Linked DNA regions of Homo sapiens: region 2 is linked to region 1. Evidence: fine-mapped expression QTL. Tissue or cell type: whole blood. Region 1 holds a variant in brackets; the other region holds the start of a gene. All regions are shown on one strand. Distances are from middle to middle.

Region 1 (5,389 bases):
AAAGCAATCAAGGCTAAGAGAGATAAAAACAAGTTGGACCAAATCACACCACTAGGAGAAATAGAAGGAGAATTAGCTCTAATCAGATTGTAGAGTTACATCCTCTTCCATTGTACTGCATTGCTCACTCATACTGATTTGCTTAGATTGAATTGAACTTTTTAGATAAAGATGTATCCATGCATGCAGCAACAGAGACAACAACTGAACACATAATCCGATGAGGGTCATTCATGTGCACGCTTACTCAGCCAACTCACCTTTAATGAGCACCTACTATGTGCCAGTGCATTGTAGTATGTCCTAGGGATTTAATGATTAAGTATGATAGACATTGTCCCTGTCCTCACAGGGCATCTAATCTTATTATGGATGTGTTTAATATATACATGCTTTAAATTTTGTTTGTGATGTCAGAATTTGGCCTAATTTTACACTGTGTATATAAACAACAGCCCCAGACAAAGGAAACTCTGTTCCTGATGGAGTGACTTTTCAGGTGGTAACTACTATTTGGAATGCAATAACAACTATGCTCAGAAATGCATTCAACTACTAAATGCATCTGAGGGTTGTTCTTCCACACAATGTTCCAGTATATTACAGGTCAGAGAGTTGGAGAATAAGAAAATTACTCCTACTGTTCTGGGGGCGGGGGTGGAATAAAAGCAATAGGATATTATAATTCTTATTAATAAACATTATTAAACTCAGACAATTTCTGAAGTTTAGAATAAAAATAATTAATCTACTGAAAGAATGGTAAACTAGAAAAGATTAAAAATTATAATTAAAGAATGAAAATGACATTTGGTATCAGAGTCATCTCAGCAGACTATCTGAACAGTGCACTAAACAAAGTGAATTATTTCTACCATAATAATGGTATTTACTGTAATACAATGGCATACTAGAAATCTAATTGCAACCTGTCAAGGATTAAAAAAACCACAGTTATAATTGGAAAATACAGGAAGAATAGATATGATCTGTATTTTTAAAGGAATATGGCAATGCTACTATATGGTTCAATTTTCAGATATCAGGATTTAATATAATAAGAAAATACAGAGAAAATGAAAATTGGGGAAACTTTTGAATAGGTGCTTTAAGAAGGGGATTTGCAACCGATTGGAAACAGGCTGATTTTGATTACATTTTAATGTGAGATAAAGTAAAGATGGGGTAAATCCAAAGTAAAACATAATTATAAGTTTCTACATAATCCCTGGCAAAATATTAAAGATTAGATTTCAGAATTGTGTTAGTAGTTCCATACAACTTTTACTATTCATAGTTACCCATTGTACATTAAGCATTGTCAGAAACAAAAAATATATTCATAAATGGAAATAGTAAAAAAGATATTTAATAAGATATCTGGATTTTAAAGTTTTTCCTTTTCTGAAATAAAAGAAAAAATAAATAAAACACAATAGAAAACAATCTAAATACTAGAATATGAGTGAGGCAACAGAATGATATGAATTCATTTTTAAATAGAAAAAAATTAAGTGCAAAGTACTTTATTTAAAAAGCATGAACACACCATTTTATATACTATCCCCTGATTTATTTTCACAATGTCTTATGTGTATATATGTATATTACACATGCACACACACTTACACACACACAAGTCCCATGGGAGCACATTTGAATGGGTATGCATAATGAGTCATGGAGGTTAATTGGCCAAAAATTTGGGTAAGTAGTCCTATTTCCACAACGGCCGAAAAAGATGAGCATCACTCATTCTAACATACACGGAACCCTCAAATGTGATCAGAAAAATCAACAGCTCTTAACTTAAATACTGATAATCGATAGATTCACAGTACTGATACATAGGTGAGAATAATAGCTTCATTTCAGGTAAGTATAAGGGATTTGGGAATATCTGGTTATGAAGAGTCTAAGATTGAAAATAAGTGCTGATAGAAACTGTTCATGAAATGTGGCCACCATCCATTCTATATTCTGAGAAACAATGTGGTAATAATCTGGTGATTTTGGTCTTTTTTGTCTGTTTGTCCCAAGTACAGAAGTTGATGGACATACACAAAATAAACTTCTGCTAAAAACCTTGATGAGTGATAAAGGCCATCTGCCAGCAGCTGGAGAAGTGTACTTTGACAGGCTGTATATTGCAGAGAGAGAGGGAGAGAGAGAGACTATTAGAAGATATTTTCAGAAATAGTTGTGGATTTTTTGTAAATGAAATTAAAACATAAAACACAGAAGGCATATAGTAGGGAAATAAAAGTCAAAATTGCATTCCTAAAGTACTGTCATCTCTGAGGAAATTGTATTAGCTTTATCCATCTCAAAGTATTTTTCTGAAGCATGTGATTAAATAACAATAATATTGACTTCTATTTAAAGATATGTTACTTTATTATTATGTTACTTTGCTGAATTCGTTATTAAAGATATTGACATTTGAGATGGTTAGAGTACTAGAAGGCATAGATCTGGCTATAAATTTATTATGTTTTAGAATAATATTTATTTTCTCTCTGATTATAATGGCACTACATTGTAAGGAATTTGGATCATAAGAATCACACACAAAAAACAGACAAATCTGTACTCCTACCATACATTATAGGTGAGATTATAGGTGATTATAGGTGTCATCATTCTGGCATATTTCCTTCCAATAATTTTACTGCTCTATTTAAAAATATATACATATTATATGTATAAATTTGTTTCCGGCGTTTTTCTTAATGTTACATCAGCAACATTTTCCTATGTGATTAAAATTTTTAATAAACGTAATTTTTTTTTGAGCAGAGTCTCGCTCTGTCACCCAGGCTGGAGTGAAGAGTGCAGTGGCATGATCTTGGCTCACTGCAACCTCTGCCTCCCGGGTTCAAGCGATTCTCACGCCTCAGCCTCCCAAGTAGCTGGGACTATAGGCACA[C/T]GCCATCACACCCTGCTAATTTTTGTATTTGTTTAGTAGAGATGGGGTTTCACCATGTTGGCCAGGCTGGTCTCGAACTCCTGACCTCAGGTGATCTGTCTGCCTTGGCCTCCCAAAGTGCTGGGATTACAGGTGTGAGCCACCATACCTGGTGAGAAACATAAATTTTAATTGCTGTGTAATATTCCATTACATAAATGAACTCTATATTTAGTGTTCTATTTATTTATATATTTATTTTTGTGACTTTACATGACCTAAGAATTAACATGTTTGTATTTCAGAATATTTTTTAGCAAAGATCTTTAGAATTGGAATTATTGAGTCAAAGGCTAAATGTTTAACATGAAGCTATGGTAAATACTGGCTAGCTGTTTGCCAAACTTGCTTGATTTTCCTTCTGAGTACAGAGATAGGCTACATTTCTCAGCCTCCCTGGCAGTGAGGTAAGGACATGAGAATGAATTCTTCCCAAAGGAATGTGGCAGAAGTGATACAATCATGCACAATGCTTCCAGGTCTGGCCCAAAATGACCTCTTACACAATTCTCAAGGCTCTCTCTTTCCTTATTTGCTGATGGTGTGTCAGTGCAGGGTGAGCTTGAGGCATTTGAGAAAGACAGCAGAGCATTTGTCAGGCTGTTTCTGAAGAAATGTGGGGCAGAATACCCTTCATTCCCACTGGCTTGAATTGATATCAGATTGAGAAATAAAATTCCAATAAAATGTTAAGATATTGAGATTTGGGGGTTTAGACATTTTAGTGCTAGCATAATCTTAACTAATAGAGATATTACCATTGAAACTTAGGTACTACTCTGTAATAAAAACCTAAAATATGTGGAATCAGCATTGGGTAGTGAGGACATTAATATCAGAGGATAGGAAGATGGAGACTCATGTAATACAGTGGTAAAATATGTGTTAACAATTCGTGATAGCAAAGACATAGAGTCAACCTAAATGCCCATCAATGACAGATTGGTTAAAGAAAATGTGGTACATACACACCATGGAATACCATGCAGCCATAGAAAAGTACGAGCTCATAGTCTTTTGTGGGAACATGAATGGAGCTAAACAGAAAACCAAATACCACATGTTCTCACTTACAAGTGGGAGCTAAAGGATAAGAACTCATGGACACAACGAAGGAAGCAACAGACACCAGGGTCTACTTGAGGGTGGAGAGTGGGAAGAGGGAGAGGAGCAGAAAAGATAACTATTGGGTACTGGGCTTAATACCTGGGTGATGAATTAATCTGTACAGCAAATCCCGTGACATGGGTTTACCTATATAACGAACTTGCACATGTACCCCCAAACCTAAAATAAAAGTTAAAAAAGAAGTACATAAAATAAAATGTGTGTTAAAACTGTCACCAGAAATAGCATAAATGCAGCCGGGTACTCATTGAGCCTGTAGCTCTAGGGAAAGAGACTGGAAAACAGAATTTTGTGATATGTGTTGGTGGTTACTGGCTTCCATTAGGAAGGTATTAGAAGAAAAAAAAAAATGAATCAGTAAATAGCTTGACAGGTTCCAAGCAGAAATGAAAATAAATACAGAGAGAGAAGAAATCTGGGGCATCAAAGAGATTGAAACACCAACGTTTCTAGATTCCAAACAATAGGAAATACAATTAAAGGTGTAGCTTTTTCTCCCAAACCATATGACTTCAGGGATGCTGGCATCAAATTGGGTGCATGTGAGAGAGGCATGAAGCTGAGGAAGCAAGGAAAGAAATAACGGATAATAGTTACGTTTGTGAAAGAACTTTGGGTAGGGTTCCACATAAGCCTGGACTTAAAAAGCCACTGACAGCCTGAGCCTTAAAATCATCCTTGAGCCCCCAAACAGACAGAGAAGTTTCTTATCAAAAGTAGAATCAGAGTCAAGGAAAAGCACTGTTTCACTCTCAAGTAGGGCCTTCGGGATTCACACATGATTCCATTTACATGAGCTATTCAAAAAAGGTACATCTATGGAAGCAGGAAGTAGATTAGTAGTTCCTCGGCATTAGGGTGGGAGTTACAAATGGGCATGGGAGGCCTTTGCAGGGTGCTGGAAATATCCTAAAGCTGGATGGTGGTGAGAGCTGCACAACTGTGTGAATTTACTAAAAATCATTGAATTGTATAGTTCAAATAAGTAAATTTTATGATATGTTAATTACATCTCAAAACAAACTTTTAAGATAAAAACCTGTGCTGGGATGGATCCAGAAGCCAGCCCAAGCTGCCACCTACTTCTCTTGGACTGGGAGCTGACTCTGGTACTCTCTCTACTGGCAGGGTGCTGCCGACCCAATGTGCATGGATTTAATTGCAATGCAGAAATAGTCATGGGGAGATGTCCCTTAACTGTAGCCCTATCACAGGGTGTCTGTAGCCCCATGGTGAGGTGTCTGTCTGTAGCCCTGCTGCAGGGTGTCTGGATTGGTGAGTATCCTAGGTGCT
Region 2 (5,347 bases), 97 kb after region 1:
AGCTGAAACCAACTAGCCTGGGCTGAACAGTTTCTGTATTGCCCAGACCATCTTGTTTCTCAAGGCTGCCTTTCGTTTTGGTTAATGAGAAAGCATATGGTTGCCATTTCCTTTCTGAGAACTGCTGAGTTAGTAGGGAAGGAAGTAGATGTTCAGCTGAGTTCTGTCCTGTGGGGGAAGGGAAGGGCTGAGCCACAGCTTGGAGTACCAGCTTCTGCTTTTGTGGGGCTTGATTTTCTGTGTCTGATTTCTTTTTATAAAATGTTCATATAATTAGCCTGAACAGCCCAACCTAATCCCTTTTCTGGGGGCAAATGATTGAGAGTTGAGTGGCAAACTTTCTTTGCCCAAACTCTTGGCCGTAACTCTTAACATTCTTAATTGGTTTCCTGTCTATTCTTAATCTTTTGAAGATCTTGTCAAACCTTAAAAAAAAAAAAAAAGAGCTCTGCCTTAAATATTGCTTCTGTGAGAATATTTTGCCTGTTTAAGAAAATACAGCTTTGAGTACAATCCAATTGAAGTGTCAAGTCCTGCCAGATAACCATGGTAGAATTAGAGCTTCTGAGCTGGATTGGGATTGAGGTTGGACGCTGGCTCTGCCATTAACTGGCATGTTTCATCATTTGTTTTATTTGATGTTGAAATTATGCTTATAATTTTATTTTACACCACTTTCCAGTATGACATCAGTGTCTTTGGCACCTTGGGCTTTATTAGTTCATGAAATGGAAGCTTCTGTTTCCTTAAAAATGCCTTGACTCTCTTGCTAATGTTGTGATAATGTTTCCAACTCTTTCTAGGGCTATAATATCTATGCTGCTTGTTTGCAAATACTTGGGAAGTGGTGGTTGATCTAAAGATACTCAGAAAGAATGGGGAGAAAATTAAGGCTTCTGACACTTTTCCCAACATTTCTGTTATCATCACCAAGAATTAACTAGATGATTCTTTAATGCCCCACTACTTTATTCTGCTATTTTATTTCTTCAGTCTGTTTTTGACTCTTATAATGACACCACTGGAAGTTAAGTCTAAACATTACCTTTAGGCTGGAGAGCTCTGGGGTCAAGATTGACTAGATTTAAAACCCAGCTCAGCCATTCTCTAGCTATCTGGTCTCTGGTGAGTTCCATCGCCTGTAAAACGGGGATTAAAAAGGGGAAAATACTGAGTATGTACTATTTGCTAGGCACTAGTTGGACAATTTATGATCCATTTAATCAATCTTCTGCTAGGCAGGGATCCCCATTTTATTATGGTTAAAAAGCTGTAATAAAAGCCAATTGACCTAAAGCTCTCACAAGTAAATAGCTGGAGCCCAGGTTTGTCTCTAAAGCACATGCTCTTTTCACTACGCGACATAAAAAAAACTTTATTAATCTTTTTTTCCAGATTATGTTTCAAGGGTTCCCACTGCTGTTGAATAATTAATTCCTTTTAGATGTACAAAAGCAAGTGCAAAGTAAAAGAAGAAAAGCTAAATGGGGAAGGTGTGTAATATGAGAGGCAGGGGGTAAGGAAAAATGAGAAGTCTGCAAAGGAATTTACGTCCTATCTGCTTAGCATTACACAGTGGAAGCCCACGTCAGACATTTGTGTTGCAGTCCTGCCTGCTCAGGGGTTGCTGGGTGACCTTCTGCAAATTACCTCATCTTTCTGGGTTTCAATTTAAGTATGCCTGAAATGAGGCGGTTGAATTGATCTCCAAATTCCCTTCTGGTGCTAAACTTCCAGCCTTGTAGCCACTGACGCCTTCACCATCCCAGCCTGTTTTCCCTTGGTACCGGACCAGCTGCCCTTGCCCGAACCCTGTTCTTCCTCGACTGCGAACTTTCTAACGTACTCACAGGTTCTAAACTCTACCGTTCCTCGTGACCGAGGGACTAAAGGGCCCGGGCAGGGGCTCAACTCTGAGAGAAAAAAAGGCAAGAAAACTCCAAAGTTGGACAGCAAGCGTCAAAAGACTGCACAGCAGGAAGGCGAAACCGAACAGAACTGCTGCTGCGCGGCGACAGCTGAAGTGGGTGGAGAACGGGAGGGCGGGGGAGGCGGGGCCGAGAGCGATTGGAAGGACGAGGGGGCGGAGCCCGCGCTGACAGCCCCCGGGGAGGAGCGAGGGAAGCTCTGCGGGCTGCGGCGGCCGGGTCCCGCCCCTTTGCTTCCCCTCCCCAGCACCAGGCGGGCGTGGCAGCAGGCGTGCCGACGCAGCGTGACTTCACAAGGGGAGGGGCGGGCCGAGGGTCCTGCCGGCGCGCGGGCGTGTTCATCAGTCGCTGTTTGGGACGCTGGGTGTGCGGTGTTCTGTCTCCGCTCCCGTTTCGCTGTCACAGCCCGTTCCTTCCCGGAGCCCGGGACAGGCTGGGCGCGCGCCCGTGTGAGTGAGCGGGACTCAGGGCAGAAGTGTCCCCTCACTGCGTTTTTTTTTCCTTTTATCCAAAGAACGGGGCAGTTAGTACGCTTGCCTTCCTGTCGCCCGGTTGGGAGCGGGGTTGGTGTGCGGAGTGGTTCGCCTTTTTTTCTTTAGAACTTGTGAGCCTTTTTTTTTTTTTTTTTTTTTTTTCTTTTTTTAGGCTCAGTGCTGTCCGGGCTGGTTTGCCCGGTCCCTGACTAACGGCTTTCTGCCCCTTCTCTCGCCACCCCTGCCCAAGGTCGCCCCTCTGCCTTCGCCCCTGTCCCGGGAGGGTGGGAAGCTTTGACCCCGCCCTGCCCACTCGCGTCTCCGCAGCCGTAGCCGCGCCTGTCCCAATATGAATAGGGTCAACGACCCACTTATTTTTATAAGAGATATTAAGCCCGGACTGAAAAACTTAAATGTCGTCTTTATTGTCCTGGAGATAGGTAAGTGGGGTTTGCAGCCTACTCCACCGCCCGCTGTGCCTCCCGGGGCGGGAGACAGGGGCGCCGGCCGCTGCGCGCCCGGGGCTCCCCTCCTCCTCCCTCCCCTCCCCCACCCACGTGGCTCTAGTGGCCTCCGCCCGAGATCGGATCCTACCTGAGGCGGGAGCCCTGGGCTTGGTCACTTCCCACCTTCCAGATGTATTAAAATACCGGAGGAGGAGTTAGCCTTTCTGGATGTCCTCATTATCTAACAACCCCTCCCTTTGATTTTTAAATCCTCACAGGACGCGTGACCAAAACCAAAGACGGCCATGAAGTGAGATCGTGCAAAGTAGCAGATAAAACGGGCAGCATCACTATTTCCGTGTGGGATGAGATCGGAGGTCTTATACAGCCAGGGGATATTATTCGGTTGACCAGAGGGTAGGTGTGCAAAAAAGTCGGGGGACCTAACAGTCTGCAGAATCGGGATTGGCCGGCTCCTGGGATCTTGGCAAGCCCTGAAGTCCCCCGCCTTTTCTGTGGGCCACTCTTGAGGAGTTTTGAACTCCTTTGGTGTTAACTTTGGGTGGTGGGCAGCGCTGGGATGTAACAGACCTTTGCAGTGAAAGGCAGTCGGTTTCAGCTGGGAAATCCGCGCCTCTACCCCGGTTTACAGGTTAAGTAGATTTTTAATTATTATTATTTTTTGGGACCGAGTCTCGCTCTGTCGCCAAGCTGGAGTGCAGTGGCGTGATCTCTCCTCACTGCAGCCTCCGCCTCGCGGGTTCAAGAGATTCTCGTGCCTCAGCCTCCCAAGTAGCTGGGACTACAGGCGTGTGCCACCACGCCCAGCTAAGTTTTGTATTTTTAGCAGAGACGGGGTTTCAGAGTGTTGCCCAGGCTGGTCTCCAACTCCTGACCTCAAGTGATCCGCGCGCCCCAACCTCCCAAAGTGCTGGGATTACAGGCGTGAGCCACCACGCCCGGCATAGATTTTTAGTTCTATTCTGAGTCAGTGAGTCTTTTTAGGAGACTGGTATAGTCCATATTTTTTCTTTTTTATAAGTTGTTTTCTCTAGTGTAGTTGCCACTCAGTTGTTTCCCACCCCTTCTCCATTTTTAATGACTTGAAATCCTGGCCAGTATTTTACATATGTTATTTAGAAATGTGGACATAAATGAAAATTATAGGTAAAGGATTTAGCATATTCTGTGATATGTCAAATTTGTACTTGGAAAAAGAGGGAAACTTTACAGTATCTGGAAGGCTCATTCTCCAAAATGATTTCTTGTGTCTTCTGCTGTAAGGTGGATGTTGCGCAAAAACCAAAGGGATACACAGAAAATGTTTGGCAGAAAGGCATCTACAATACCTTCATCCAAAAGAGTCAGTTGGCGGATAGGTGGCTTTAAAAAATACTAGAACTTTTTTTTTAAAAAATAGATTGCTTTTAGAAATTTACCAAATTTTTATCTTAGGAAGATAAAAGGGCAGAAAAGGATCTTAAAAACAGAATTTGGAAGCTTTTGAGATCAATAAAATTGTAATAATTTATCATTAACTGCAGGGAAAGTGGTGGAGATTGATGTTGGCCTAATAAGTAGAATCTTAGAAGTATTGGAAAGCACTGAGAGTAGGAGCTTAGAGCTCCTTGGTGTTACCTTGCAGGCTTACAACATCTTCAGGAAGTGAGGTAAAGTGTCATCAAAGCAGGAAGTGAGAGTCAGGACTTAGACATTTTCTTCTCATACACTGACTCATGACAGTAATTTAAACTTCCACATCTTTAAAAAACAAAAGAGAATTCCTTCTTAGGGAAGTATGGTGAGGATTGATTAGTATAATTGGAGTTTTTGGCTCCCCAAATATTTTTCACCCAATGATTGAAAGTATTTTTTACGCTAAAAACGGCATCTTATTTCAAGTATTTCATGTTCTGTAGTGACAGTCATAGGTGTTTCCATCAAAAAAATTATTGGAAAATTAAACTTATTAGTTAGGTACTATAGAATTTTAAGGGGAACAATTACCTGGGAGTACAATTTAAACGAAAATTAAAAACTATAGAAACTCTATTTACTACTTCAGTATGACCTTGAGAAGTTACTACACCTCATACTTCAGCTTCCTCTTCTGTGAAATGGGAATAATTATACCTTATTTACCAAAACAACACACTCAGCTTGGAGTCTGGCTCATTCTAAGGCCCTTAAATTCTGGTTGAATCTAAGAAAAGTAGCTTTTGAAGAAAAACATACCTAACATCTAAATAATGGTTCAAATATCAACATGTTTATCAGAATACCCTGAAAACTTACCTCAGTGTTCTCATTTCTTAAAGTGAATGTTAAATATTTTAATTGTAACCAAATTTTTTCTCAAAATATGGGTTAATTTTTATTTTAGTAAGGTGAAATGTTAATGCACTGTATCCTAAGCCACTCTTTGTATAACTTAAGAGTGGTGAATGGTGTCTTTAATAAATAACCCTTTAATTAAAGTAAAGAGAACTGTATAGTAAGT

Evidence for each region.
Region 2: it holds the start of NABP1, and the variant in region 1 is fine-mapped to the expression of NABP1 in whole blood (INTERVAL, PIP 0.91).

What each region holds. Positions count from the first base shown.
Region 1 is chr2:191,579,112-191,584,500 of GRCh38, forward strand. No RefSeq gene overlaps it. Among named protein-coding and RNA genes, the nearest start is that of NABP1, 96 kb to the right of the region's middle. The variant C/T (reference allele first, on the strand shown) is at 2,930.
Region 2 is chr2:191,675,865-191,681,211 of GRCh38, forward strand. It overlaps NABP1 (nucleic acid binding protein 1), which reads left to right and starts at 2,272. Exons shown (of 6, transcript NM_001031716.5): 1 at 2,272-2,841; 2 at 3,126-3,264. The coding sequence starts at 2,751. RefSeq lists silencers at 1-173, 1,964-2,313, 2,914-2,973 and enhancers at 121-230, 1,824-1,903, 2,113-2,615, 3,443-4,642.